Linked DNA regions of Homo sapiens. The protein of the gene in region 2 purifies or fractionates together with the protein of the main gene of each other region. This does not show direct contact. Each region holds a gene or a part of one and is shown on either strand. Other genes may lie near its edges.

The links. The genes of interacting proteins can lie anywhere in the genome.
Region 1: the proteins of DKK2 (region 2) and SAP130 purify together in Homo sapiens (affinity purification with mass spectrometry; one large-scale study listed by BioGRID and IntAct). This does not show direct contact.
Region 3: the proteins of DKK2 (region 2) and LRP1B purify together in Homo sapiens (affinity purification with mass spectrometry; one large-scale study listed by BioGRID and IntAct). This does not show direct contact.
Region 4: the proteins of DKK2 (region 2) and LRP2 purify together in Homo sapiens (affinity purification with mass spectrometry; one large-scale study listed by BioGRID and IntAct). This does not show direct contact.

The regions. Positions count from the first base shown.
Region 1 is NC_000002.12:127,940,921-127,944,559, forward strand, and holds the end of SAP130 (histone deacetylase complex subunit SAP130), read right to left. Parts: intron 1,618-3,639; coding exon 1,504-1,617; intron 1,245-1,503; coding exon 1,086-1,244; 3' UTR 302-1,085; downstream 1-301. UniProt on the Homo sapiens protein: Acts as a transcriptional repressor. May function in the assembly and/or enzymatic activity of the mSin3A corepressor complex or in mediating interactions between the complex and other regulatory complexes.
Region 2 is NC_000004.12:106,924,776-106,928,414, forward strand, and holds part of DKK2 (dickkopf-related protein 2 precursor), read right to left. Parts: intron 1,175-3,639; coding exon 1,024-1,174; intron 1-1,023. UniProt on the Homo sapiens protein: Antagonizes canonical Wnt signaling by inhibiting LRP5/6 interaction with Wnt and by forming a ternary complex with the transmembrane protein KREMEN that promotes internalization of LRP5/6.
Region 3 is NC_000002.12:140,349,878-140,353,516, forward strand, and holds part of LRP1B (low-density lipoprotein receptor-related protein 1B precursor), read right to left. Parts: intron 3,196-3,639; coding exon 3,076-3,195; intron 1,162-3,075; coding exon 920-1,161; intron 1-919. UniProt on the Homo sapiens protein: Potential cell surface proteins that bind and internalize ligands in the process of receptor-mediated endocytosis.
Region 4 is NC_000002.12:169,205,396-169,209,034, forward strand, and holds part of LRP2 (low-density lipoprotein receptor-related protein 2 precursor), read right to left. Parts: intron 1,856-3,639; coding exon 935-1,855; intron 794-934; coding exon 628-793; intron 243-627; coding exon 84-242; intron 1-83. UniProt on the Homo sapiens protein: Multiligand endocytic receptor. Acts together with CUBN to mediate endocytosis of high-density lipoproteins. Mediates receptor-mediated uptake of polybasic drugs such as aprotinin, aminoglycosides and polymyxin B.

The DNA of each region.
Region 1 (3,639 bases), on a different chromosome or scaffold from region 2:
GGATCCACCCGCCCGAAAGCTCCGCCCCCAGTACTGCAGCCTTAATAGTCCTGTAATCGGACCAATTTTTATCCGCACTGGGCCACAATACAGGCTCGTATTTAAGGGAGCCAAGATCCAACAGGTTTCACCACTGTAGCATATTTAGACTACCCTCTAAGAGGAACTCTATGCGAACAGCATAACTTCAACAAACAAAGTAGGCTCCCAACAATGTGTGAAAAACTGAAGCAGGGTAAACATTTCAGTGAGGGTCAGTATGGCACTGATTCACTTTACAAAAAGATGCAAACTGCGCAAGTACAAAAACCTCTTTGAGTCCTTTATTAACGTCTGGAGATGTGTGGTACATACAATTAACAGCATCACACCAGCTACAGAAGTACAGATAACCAAGAATGTACTTCAGAACAAGGATCTGAGAGCAACTTATGGTGTTGCCTGCTCTGAACCTCCACAAAAACCCAGTTCTGACACACGCAAGACAGACGATATAACAATTTCACTTGGGAATGGTTTTTTTTAAAAAATGACAAGAACTAATAGTTCAAACCCTTTAGAGTGTGAGATGTGGCAGCTCGCTTGGTGCCGTGGCACTGCTGTAAAAGGCCAACATGGGCATTTGAAGGTCAGGCAGAAGAACCGAATGGGGTGGGTGGAAGAGGTTTTATTTTCAGTGTAGAGAGATAACAGATGGTCCGAGTGGATACTTTCAGTCCAGGCTCAGTATGGGGCCTGCAGGAATCCACTAGATAAATACAGTCTATAAACCGGAAGGCTGAAAAACACCAGCCAGCCATCCTTGTCATTGCTTCCAACTGGTGGACACTGATGCATCCGGAGTCACTTATGACACAGATCAGGTTTAACAGGGGTGCACCCGAACGCAAGAAGGCAGCTCACTATGTCCAGTCAGCTCTGATCCTTTCACGCCCTTGGATGTCATGGGTTCCTCTGCTTTCACACGGGAACTAAGGAACACTTCCTTTATTTCAATGTTCCACTTTGGAAAAAACCAAAACCCTCCCCCCACCCCCACCATCATTCTTCATAAATTTGCTTCCAATCTCCTGATTGTTCTGGGTCTAGACTTTTTCCTTTCGCTTCAATTTGGACACTTTTTTGACAGTCCCGTTCTTGTTAAGCAGCTTCAGGACACGGTCTTTATGATCTAAAACCTTAAGCATGGAGTCTCTGGCTTCACTGATTTGATCCATCACAAGTTTACACCTCTGCATATTTCCCTGAAACAGAAGACATTGCATCATCAATCAGTGACCATGAGGATAGTACAGCTTTTAAAAAACTGCTTGCCTTTGGGCAGAGGCCATGTTGAGGCTTCCACAACAGAGAAAATGTCTTTTTGTTTCTCAGGAGTGCAGGCTGAAGCACGTATGTTTTTACTGAAGATATGAGGGAGACGGGGGGAAACGGGAGAAGTAGGGCTTTACAGAAAGCAACTTCATAAAGTAGATGATCAGAAGGGAAGGGGCGCACTCAAACCTGTATCAGTTCGTTTATTCGGTGGAGATCATCATCTGTTGCTGCTTTTTTCTTTGGGATAATCCCTTCCTGCAGGTTAGTAAGTCTTTCATAGACATCATGTTCTAGATTCGTCTGCAACACACAAAAGGGAGGGTATCATAAGCTCGGAAATATTTTTCTATGTCAACCCCAGGCAAATGAACCCACCTTCAATCACCTTTGTAAACTGTCTAAGAGTTGTTTGGGTGACAACGTCCTTTCTCCTAAGGACTAAGATACTAAGGTTTAAAAACAGTAAAGGGGCTGGGCGCGGTGGCTCACGCCTATAATCCCAGCACTTTGGGAGGTCGAGGCGGGTGGATCACCTGAGGTCCAGAGTTTGAGACCAGCCTGACCAACAAGGTGAAACGCCATCTCTATTAAAAATACAAAATTAGCTGGGCGTGGTGGCGCATGCCTGCAATCCCAGTTACTCGGGAGGCTGAGGCAGGAGAATCGCTTGAACCCGGGAGGCAGAGGTTGCAGTGAGCTGAGATCCCGCCATTGCACTCCAGCCTGGGCAACAAGAGCGAAATTCCATCTAAAAAATAAATAAATAAATAAATAAATAAAATAAAAACAGTAAAGGAAACTGATCAACAAAGATTTACATTATAATTTGCCATAGTTCAGAGCCTATCTTCAAGGATAACTTTTGAATACTGCCTTGAATCCACAATTCTTCTGAAACACAAGTCTCCAAGTTTCATAGAAGTGATTTCTGCTAAGTCAGAAGTAGCCAAGGCACTACATTTTTTTAGATACTGACAACAGACAATGTTCTTCAGGTCACTGCTACTGAAGAGGAAAAACTTTATGAGGTTGTTGCCTCCTCTTCACCTGCTGGTGAAGGAGGGATTCTTGCCCTAGGGTTATAGAAATGGCCAAACATATAAGATCCAACACTGGATGGATAAGATTAACAGCAGTTTATGAGTCACAAATACAGTCATGCTCTGCTTAATGACAGGGATACGTTCTGAGAAATGTCTTTAGGAAATTTTATTGTTGTGTGACCATCACAGAATGTACTTACACAAACCTAGATGTTATGAACTACCACATATTTAGACTATATGATAGAGCCTACTGCTCCTAGGCTACAAACATGTACACCATGTTACTGCAAGGAATAGTGCGGGAAACTGAAACACAGTGTTAAGTATTTGTGTATCTAAACGTATCTATACATAGAAAAGGTACAGCAAAAATACGGCATGACAGATTAAAAATGGTAAAGAGCACTTACATGAATGCAGTCTACCAGGACTGTTAAGTTGCTCTGTGTGAGTCAGTGGGTGAGCAGGGAGTGAATGTGAAGGTCTAAGACATCACTGTACACTACTGTAGGCTTTATAAGCACTGTGCCCTTAGGCTACACTAAATCTATTAAAAATATTCTTCTTTCTTCAATAACAAATTAACCGTAGCATACTCTTTTTACTTTATAAACTTTTAAATTGTTTTAAACTTTTTGACTCCTTTGCAATAAAACTTAGCTTAAAACACATATTGTTGGACAAATGTGGATACTGTTGGGCGGTTACAAAAAATATTTTCTTTCTTTGTATCTTTATTCTATAAACTTTGTTTTCTTCCTTTTTTTTGAGAGTGTCTTACTCTGTTATCCAGGATGGAGTGCAGTGGTGCGATCATGGCTAAGGGCAGCCTTGGTCTTCCGGGCTCAAGAGTTCCTCCCACCTCAGCTTCCCAGGTAGCTGGGACTAGGGGGTGTGCACCACTACACCCGGCTAATTAAAACACTTTTTTTTGTAGAGACAGGGTCCCACTATGTTGTCCAGGTGGGCCTCAAACTCCTGGGCCCAAGCAATCCTCTTGCCCCAGCCTTCCAAAGTACTGGGATCACAGGCCTGAGCCACTGAACCTGGCCCCTTATGTTCTATTAAAAAAAAATTTTAACTTTTTATACTTGTTAAAAATTAAGACACAGTACAGCCTGGGCAACATAGTGAGACCCTGTCTCTACAATTTTTTTTTTCCCCGAGAGGGAGTTTTGCTCTTTCGCCCAGGCTTGAGTGCAGTGGCATGATCTCTGCTCACTGCAACCTCCACCTTCTGGTTTCAAGCAATTCTCCTACCTCAGCCTCCCGAGTA
Region 2 (3,639 bases):
GTGAAATATGAAGCCATTTATCTATCTGTGTATCTATCTATCTATCCACCCATCCATTCATTTACTTATTTATTGAGACTGAGCATACTTTGGCCCTAAAGTGAAACTTCTTTAATATGAATTTTGTCTCTCTCAAGACCAAGTGACCTTGGACAAAACTGGGAATAAAAGCATAATTTTATATAGTCACAAAGTTATTGTGAATATATGTGAAGAATCAATGTTAGCTATTACTATTTTTAAAGAATCTGATCAGACATACATCCTCTGGATCCAGATTCCTTTATTAATTAACAACATAATGTTAGTTTACACTGTAAACTTCTCTAATGGTGTGAGGTCTTCTTCCCTTCACCTCCTGTGCAAGAGACTCACAGTAGGTCTACACCCAGAGGTCAGGAATAGGCATGAGAAAATGAGCCTGATTATGTTGTTTTATATGATTAAGTATATATTTCTAATTACCTTCTGCAATTATTTAATGTTTTTGCCACATCTTGTCTGTGATCCATTTCATCATTATTACTGAATTGTCTGCCTATAAATTCATTGATATTGGATGAAGCCAGGTTGGGGAATAAAATGCTGCATCTCCCTTTGGAGGAACCAATCACTCTACTACCATAAGACTGAGCCACAGAACATCTTGACTAAACCCAAAGCACAAAACTGGAATAGATATTTGCAACTGCATTACTAAATCATATCAAGTTTCTTTCTTTGGTTCTTTTACATGCATTCACTTATGTGTTTACTGAAATAGAACATCTTGCTATTTATACACAACACTTCAACATGGCAATATTCTAGATCAGTGTAGGTCATAAAATATAGAAAGTAGCCAGACTCTAGGAAAACTAAGATTTGGGGAGGTAATCCAGGTAATCTTACACTACCTAAACCAGTTCTACCAGGCTTCTTATATTTCAGGAGTCTGAGTAAGGAGACGATAGCCTGACTTGAGAGACAGGCTTATGATGATGAAAAGAAAGAGGCCCATTAACACTTAGTGAGATCTTTTACCATTATTGCAGCGGGTACTGGGGCAGCACATGCCATCTCGGTGGCAGCGCTTCTTTTTTCTCCGACACACCATGCAGGCCGATGATCCTTGGTGGGGACTGTGGCAATACCTCCCAACTTCACACTCCTTATCACTGCTACAAGGGTAGGCCTGTCATCAAGTGGAACAACACCAGAAGTAAAGGATTAGATCGTGTTTCACTTATGAAACATTACTATAGCAAATCATGATAGAAAATGAATCACAATATATCTCACCCGGAAGGAACTATACCATCATCATAATGTTCTGAACCTAGAGCCTAAGTAGTCACACTTAATTGAGGACCTTATAAATATCTATTGCTTGATGACAAAGATAAAGCTGACGCTGTTTGTATATTTTCATTGACACAACGCTAGAGTTAGAATTTAGACTTTTATTGATTCATAGGACCCTTATGTGTGACTTTGGGGTCTCAAGAGCAGTTGTAATTATTGCATTGATGCTATTGTAAGGTAAAAATGACACAGCCATCTTAGCCACTCGATTTTTTCACCTGTTAAAGAACGATGAGAGAAATGTTAAATAAAACAACAAAGGGCTATGCTAGAAGCCAAAATGTATCTCCTGCCCAATTATGAAACAAATATTTTAAAAGTGAACCCTTTCAGTTCCTGCCTATAAAAGCAAGGAGGAGAAACATTTCCAGAACAGTATGAGGCAGTGAATTATTTGGCACAAAGACACTAAGGAACAGGATCCTCATTCCAAACACGGTGATAAGCAGCAGTTGAGCTCCCAGCAGCCAGAGAGATGCTAAGCTCCAATTATATCATTATATTCCCAGGAAGCACAAAAGCAGACTCCTTACAGACCTGAAATAGCCCCACAGGCTACTACGCCTTCTATTGTAAAGAAAGAACCTCTGTTCATACATTTCTCTACCTAGGGGTATGTCCAGAAGGCTACTTCAGCAGTGTCATATATTATCTTAAAAAAAAATACATGTGAAATAATACAGAAGGTGGTCAGAGTTTAGGAAAATGAAGATTTCAGGGGTTATACATACATATATACCCATTTGTGCACCCCTTGCCTCTTGGAAGTATTTGGAACATTAAAAATGTCCCTGTGTTCAAAGACTGGAAGTTGAGAAACTAAAATGTCATAACCCACATCAAACTTACTCAGATTTTGAGGCAGGGAGACTCATTTGTAAACCTTTTTTTCTTTTTTGAAGTTGATATTTTTCTCATTTTCAGAGTAATAGATGATTTTTTAATTGAAAATACAAAATATAAAATAAGCTATGTATTTGTTTTTAAGCAACCATAAATAATTTGAACATAAACTATGGGATAAAATGGTTATGGCTCTCAAATACTTAGTGAGATTTCAGTGCTTTACTTATGAATTAGGTTTGATGGTATAGCTCGGCCTGCATTGCTCATGTCTTTTTTTCCTTTTATTTCTTTTACTCTTTCCCTTTCTTCCAGTGTCTTCTCCTCCTGCCCATCTCCTGCATATATGTCTACACATTGAGCCCTCACATGTTTTCCGTTTAGGTGATCAGATCATCTTCAGTTAGAAAAAGGAAATGTGAAGTTTATGTACGAGTCTGAGAGATAAAAAATGTATTTTAGCATCATTACAATTTCTTGTTTACCCTTTAAAGAATTATATAGAAAAACCACCAACTTCAAATTGAAAGTTATTTTGAAGGACTGCATAGTGGCAATGTTTGATGCATACTTTATAACTGGAGCCACACAAAGCTATAAAATAAATTTGCATTTCATTGTTCCACTCTGTAACTCCACCATTAGGCTTAAGAGAATCTTAGTGAGATGAAATTCAGACTATTAAGCCATTTTTCAAGAATCCAAGACTGATGAAAACAAAACAAATATCCCTTCCCGCCTTACCACACTCTTTCCCCCAAGCATTTTACCCCCTTCACATTTAAACCCATTAATTTTAATGAAATACAATTCACATGTTTCTGATTCATTTACATTTATTTCATCAAATTGTTTTGCAACAAACATTTGAAGTTACAAGTTTCTTTCCTTCCTCAAAAATAGGACATGCTCTTTCAATGGAAATAAACATGTGCCACATAAAACATCATGTGCTATTTACAACTCAAATAACAAGTCCTCAAGCCATTCTGAGTATAGGATAATCCTGGATTCCATCCCCCCAAAATAGTCCACAGGATACACTATTTTATTTATTAGCTGTTATTGATAGCTGTTTATTTTCTGGTTGTTTGGTAAAAGTAGCAGTGTCTGCCAAAAAATTGTGAATGGCGCATCACCATCTTTCCATTCTCAGTTGACAGGAACTGGAAAATATTAAAATGACAAATATCTGATGCAGATGACATTAAAAAAATGGGGTGCACAGTAGCCTTATATTTGAATGGGATTACAATAAAATTATAATAATTTAATTTTGAAAGAGGGAACCTCATTTGATCAAAAATAGAAAGTATATTAGAAAATACATAGTTTTATTATGCTCCAATATCTCTTTTAATTAACTTGAAGTAAAAATGACACAGGCAGAGAAAGTATGCCAAAAAATGCCTAACTATACAAGGTTATGTATATTGGGAACTTGTACTTGGA
Region 3 (3,639 bases), on a different chromosome or scaffold from region 2:
TCTTTTAAAACCAGCATATTGCCATCTACTGCTGATAAAGTATATTCCAGATTTGCATCAAATGGATTTATGTAGTTCAAGTGTTTATGGTAGATGCTAGTAGAAAAAGTAGTGAGAACTTCTAGATAGGAACCTCTAATTTTTGTTAAACACAAAGCTTCAATTACATCCTGCTGGGACACCACTTGACTTTTTGGTTGTACAGGAATGGGCCAGGCCCTATAAAAACACATATTTATCTGTCATTTTCCTTCCAGGTTACTTAAAAATATAAAACACACAATAACTTGACATGCCCTAAAACAAAAAGGGATAATCTAATCTACAACCATAAATTGAAACATGTTCCAGTTTATTTTTTCTCAAAAACAATAACCATGATAATCAACATGTCCAGCATACACAAGTGCACAATATTTCTGTTTTGGATATTTCCTGAAATATAGTTATCAGGAGTCAGAAGAAATGGTTACACTATTGAGTTGATGTCCTGCCCTACAGTAGAAGTATATTTATGATAATGTAAGAAGAGAAATAGTTATCCCTGCATTACGCTACTTTCTAATGTAAAAATAAAGTGATGTTTCCCAATCTCATCTCATGATAAAAAAGCTTATGTTCATAATAATTGTAAAGCACTATGAAATAGATGTTCTGGAGATGTTATATGTCATTCATTAGCATTCTTATATAATAGTCAAATACATTAAAGCAAAAACATAAAAGCATGCAACTAAAATAAATCATGTACAGCTATGAGAATGAGTAGAGAAATGCATTATTTCTATTTAAGGAGAATATTGGGAGAATAATTGAATATATTACTTAGTATAATTAGATATTATATTAGATAAATTTTGTTTAAAAAGCAGGTGGGGAAAAGGTATGGACTTTCAAATATACAATGGTATTTACTTACAATCAAGCCACTGTTTGCTTGCCTTTTTTCTCTGCCATGGATCCTTTTGTAGAAAATTCCGCCTGGATTAAACTGAGTACTCCAAATAATCATATCTCTTTGATAATATACATCCATCCCTGTTATTCTTGAATTATGTTCAATATGAGAAATTTGTTGATGATCGCCACTGTAGTTGAATGGATATATAAAACCCAGGATATCAGTGTCATTAGCAATGTAGAGAACTTGATCTTCAGAGCCTGGAGATTATTATAATAAAATACAAAAATAAAGTAAATTTCAACTAATGTTAAAAGCAATAATTGTACTTTTAAATTATCTTGAATTATTATTCTTAATACAGTTTTTCCTCAAAAATCAACCAGTTTTATATTGTCTTTTAGTCTTTATGGCTTATTATTTCTGATACTCACTTATCTAAACATTTACAATAATTATTGATAGAGGTTTTTCTACTGCCAATCTTTCCTTATGGCTAGAAATTATGTACATATAAATGTCCTTTTATGAAGAGAGATTATTATTTGATAAGTCACAATACACTAGGTTATAATGCATCAATTGTCAATATCCAAGTACTATGTTGTATACTCATTAAGCTTCAAAAGTTTCTGATTACTTAATTTATGCACCTGAGTGATCATTACTTTAGGCTAAGAAATAAAAATTAAAATATGAAGAATCTTCCTCTTACTGTATTTATACATCTTAAATGCTTACTAACTTTTAACATAAAAAGATATCAGTATTTATTCCATTAAAGTTCTATAATCTCTAAATTATCTAGAATCCTGCTAAGTGTAACATTCTATTCTAAAGTTTTGACACCTACAATAGAGTACTAATGTCATTTTCATACTAACAAGTAAAACCCTAAAGCAAATGCCAAAATTATCAATTAAAATATTAACGAAGCCCTAAAGAGATGTTCGATTGCATACATAGTTTCTGCAAATAAATAATAATAATAATACCTCATGAGGTGCCTTTCAGCTCTGTAATGTTAATAGCTGTCACTTAGCAAATGCTTATTATGTGTCAGACGCTATGTTAAGCCTTTCACAGTTTATCTCCACTTCTTATAACTATGGAAACTGAACTGAGGCTCTGACACTTTAGTGAATTCCTTGAGGCCACACAGTCTAAAAGGTGCTGTGCTGGGATTCAAATCCAAGCATATCAAATGCTATAGCCCACAGTTGATCCATTACATCATCCTGTTTTCTTCTTGTAATAACAATCTTAATAATGTCCAATCATACTTTGTAGCCAACAATATTGAAGTTACAGTATTATTTAGCATAAACACATGAATATTAAAATCTATACCTACAATTGCCCAGAACCCTAGTTTATCATTTAATCTTTTTTTGTTTGTTTGTTTTTCTTTTTTTGAGATGGAGTCTTGCTCTGTCACCCAGGCTGGAGTTCAGTGGCGCAATCCTGGCTCACTGCAACCTCTGCCTCCTGGGTTGAAGCGATTCTCCTGCATCAGCCTCCCAAGTAGCTGGGACTACAGGTGTGTACCACCACGCCTGGCTAATTTTTGTAGTTTTAGTAGAGACGGGGTTTCACCATGTTGGTCAGGTTGTTCTTGAACTCCTGATCTCGTGATCCACTCGCCTTGGCCTCCCAAGGTGCTGGGATTACAGGCATGAGCCACTGCACCAGGCCTATCATTTAATCTTTTTAAAAAATAATATTGGTAAGTGGAGGACTTCTAAATTTGAAAGCAAGATCTTGTTTTAAAACCTTTAAAATCCTTACTCAAAATTCCTTTCTCCTTATAATGCTAATGTTTATTTTTATCCCTGGGGTATAATTTTTCTCATATTCCCTTAGAGCAGACCATCAAGAGAGATACTTCACATTCTATCACACTGGCTTTTAAAATTTTACCCCTTTTGAAAAATTGTTTTGAACACAATGACACAATGTGATTTTAACAGTAACCATATATTTCATAGTCATTTCCATAAACCATCTAAGATTAAATTCATTAATATTAACTAACCAACTGGCCAAATTAATCATCATTAAAAGTATTTTATCAGAAATGAAGCTGTTGCTGGAATGAAATATAAAACATTTTTCTCCATAAAATGTTTACAACAAAATTGTAATAGGATTTGCAATAGTGGTTATAATCTTACCTTCTGCTATGCAGGTGTTATTTCTTTCTTGAAAATTCTGGTCACACACACATTTATATGATCCTTCCACATTTATACATTGATGGGAACATGTGCCAAACACCAAACATTCATTAAGGTCTAGAAAAGAAGAGCTCAAAATAGCATCATCATACCCTCAATTCAGACTCCTATTCTTACCACGTTTCAAAAAAGCCAAAATTATTTTTAACTTATTACTAGCTTTATTGTCCTTTCACATCTTTAATCTGTGACCTGCTGTGTCATATTTTTGAAGGTATAATCATTTTTCACAATATTTGTAGTAGAAGATTTATCAATTGTCATTGCTTTTATTAATCCACTTAAAATATTAAAGCTTCAATTTCAAACTTCCCTGGGGCTTTCTTTTTTCTTTCTTAAAATTTTTACTTATTTATTTTTTTACCTTTTAAGTTCATGGATACAAGTGCAGGTTTGCTACCTAGATAAACTTGTGCCATGGGGGTTTGTTGTATAGATTTCCATTCACGCAAATAGACCTGTCTTGAGGTTTTCTTTTAAGCTGTTTCTGATGACCTACCT
Region 4 (3,639 bases), on a different chromosome or scaffold from region 2:
ATCACATGATGCAAATCCCTCTTCTTTGGAAATGGAAGAAAAACCTCTTCTTAACACCCACATGAGTAACCAGAGACACCTACAGACTAGCATCCACCCAGTAGAGAAGGTCCTCTTCATAGTCCAGAGTCAGCCCACTGGGCATGACCAGACTGCTGTTCACAATGGGTACGCGGAAGTTTCCTCCCAATGTGGCTCTCTCGATTTTGGCATGTGTATCCCAGTCAGCCCAGTACAGGTACCTAGTCATACAAAAGGAGTCAATAATTAATTCACAGGGAACCTCATAGTCCTTTAAAAAAAAAAAAAAGGACAATATTCTTTAATTGCAAATTGCCAGTAACATGGCAAAAGAAACTTCATTTCTACTTACACAACTTGTCCAAAGGAGATCTAGTAAGTCAGGGTGTTGACTTCCTAGTATGTTGCCAACCTTTCTGCCATCAAAGGGAGCTATGCGCTGCACCCTCCTTCCCACGTAAAATCACTCAATATGCTTTCATTTTTGAATCTGTAGCCATAGTTTTATAAGCCCATAACACATTGGCTATCTATGAACATAATTTCAGGCCCCATTTTTTCCAGAAATAAGCAGACAGAAATATAACAAGGAAGATGATGGCATACCCTTGGCAGGGATCTAACACAATTGCTCTTGGTTTTGGAACGCGGGCTATCACAGTGCGGTTAGACCCATCTTCAGCCATGGAATTAATCATCTGGTTGAGGTAGTCACTGTAATAAATTCTTCTAGTAATCCAGTCAAAGGCAATGCCATCAGCAGTCCCTATACCTGGACACATACAGGCAGACACACACACAAGCACACACAAAGACATTAGAGTCTCATATGCATTAGAAACACTCAGTCATCCATGTGTGTTGACCCCATTGTGTCTACTTGCAGGACAAGCAGCACCTGGAGTGCACTTACCTGAAGCAATGACAGTTGGAGTATGGATCCCTGAAGACAGGGTGGCATAGGAAATCTGTCCAACTCCAGAGGCTAAATTTTGTGTGAAGTAGATTCTATCACTTACACTGTCATAGTCTAGAGACATGACAGTTCTTTCCACATTTATTGTTTGGAAAGGTGGGCTATGGTTTTCAGGGTCCAAGTGTAAGCTTCTCAAGGAATTAGACAAGGCAAAGATGAGGAAATTTTCTGTTGAAATGGCACAATTCTTGCCATCACTTTGCAGGGTCCCAAAGGCACAGTCACATTTTGGGGTGTGCAATCCAGGCAGAGCAAAGCAGAGATGAGAGCACCCACCATTGTTTTCCAAGCAAGGGTTGTTGTTGACCTCTGCTGGTGACCGGGGCTGGACTTGCTTGTCAAAGATGGTCACATCTCTTAGCCAGTTGATATTGTCTCTTATCACTGTGGGTGGCTCTGTGTTCTCTGGTTCCTTGCTGGCTTGGAAGATCTTTTTCAAATTCCTATCTACCCATATGATAGAATTTTCAAAAACAGTGATGCCATAAGGAGTTGGGTAACGACTGCCATAACGAATCACTTCAGAGTTCTCTCCATTGATACGAATCCTTGCAATTATATCTAAAGAATCATCAACCCAATAAACGTAGCCATCACTTCGGTCCACTGCCAAGCCCCGTGGTGTGACAATGCCCTCTGACACAAGCACTGTTCGATTGGTACAGTCAAGGAAAGAACGCTCAATCTTTGGTCTCTGCCCATAGTCAGCCCAGAAGAGGTATCTGTTCTTGGGATCTACAACAATATGCCTAGGCATGTCCACTGTGACTTTAAGAAGAACACGGCGGTAAGTAGTATTGATCCGCAGAACTTCTATCAGTGTTTCAGAAACAAAGGCATTGGTGAAATAAAGATTTCCTATGGGAAAAATGAAAGTGCATGCTGATCAATGGAGAACCAAGAAGAAAAAAAGGGAGAACTTTACAAATTCAGAACAAAATATATAAGGTTGAAGTCTGGGTCACTATATGTTGTCTTTTCCAAGATGATAGTGTCCCAGTCTAGGCTTAGAAAAATAAGTTCTTACTCCTAGGAATTATAGAGATTGTGTCTTCAAATTTAGAGAGAAAGTGCCTATCTTCAGCTTCTAAAGTAGATTAGAATTCATAGCAACATCATAACCCACTTTCTACTGAAAGGTATATTTTCCAGAATGTCCCTCCTTTTCTATCTGAAGCTCTAAATGCTTAATACCTACTTGAAACACTCTAAATATACATTTTCATAGCACAACTTCCATCCCAATGTGATAAAAGTAGCAAAGAGGGAGCACCAGCAGCATCTCAGGTTGTTATTAATGTTATCAAATGGTCTTTGAACTTAAGGTTAACATGAAGTTTTTCCTTAGTCTTTCTAACTAATGTAGGTGTTTTCATCCCATGGACCTTCTAAAAGTGACCAAAAGTCCATTTCCCTTTGGGCCTTATGTACATGCTAGAATAAAAAGATAACTTTATGAAGATAGTATAATAAGTAGAGAATGACCACAAATTATTGATTTCATGTAGTTGAAAGTCTGTTGTTGAACTATCAATGCTACTACCAAGACACACATATTTTGTTCCTATATCTGATTCAAACCACCTCTAGAGAAATCAGGCCAATGTGAAATATGTTACTGATACATTTTTTCATTACCTAACTCTACTTGCTATGTATGCATTTGCTCATTTCCAATCCTTTAATCCAGGGTTGGCAAACTTTTTCTGTAAAGGGCCACATAATAAATATTTTAGGCTTTGCAGAGCATATGGTTTCACAAGTACTCAACACTGCCACTGTAACATGAAAGCAGCCATAGACAATACACAAATAAATGGGCATAGCTGTGTTACAATAAAACTTTATTTACAAAAACAGGCAACAGGCTGCATTTGACGCACGGGCCATAGTTTGCTGACTACTGCTTTATCTATACCCTCAGAAATAGTAATTTCTATTCAGGAACGGGAGTTAGGAACCCAATTAAAGCTTTATTTAACCATACTTCCATATTTACTTTTTGCAATAAACTCTTATTATAGTACTTAGATTTTCATAATACATGCTTATATTTCCTTTTTTTAAATTTTTTTTTAATTCGAGACAGAGTCTCAGTCTGTCACCCAGGCTTGATGGCAGTGGCTTAATCTCGGCCCACTGCAACCTCCACCTCCCGGCTTCAAGAGATTCTCCTGCCTCAGGCTCCTGAGTAGCTGGGATTACAGGCGTACGCCACCATGCCTGGTTAATTTTTGTGTTTTTAGTAGAGATGGGGTTTCACCATGTTGGTCAGGCTGGTCTCAAACTCTTGACCTCAGGTGATCCGCCTGCCTCAGCCTCCTAAAGTGCTGGGATTACAGGCATGAGCCACTGCGCCCTGCCTACATGCTAATATTTCTAAGTGATGCCTACTCACCAAGCTTGATTCAATGATACTGATTTTATGTAGAATTGGATTATATTCCAAAACATATAATACCACTAATTATGAGTGGTATTTTTACTCAGATGAGTGATAAAAATGAGGGGTTATTCAAGCTTATGTGCATGAATAAATACAACTAAGTTAATATAATACTGGACCAGGCATTTAAAAAAATTACTAATAAAATATCTCATGATCTAAGGGATTTTTATATATGAATAAAAGGAAGCAATTA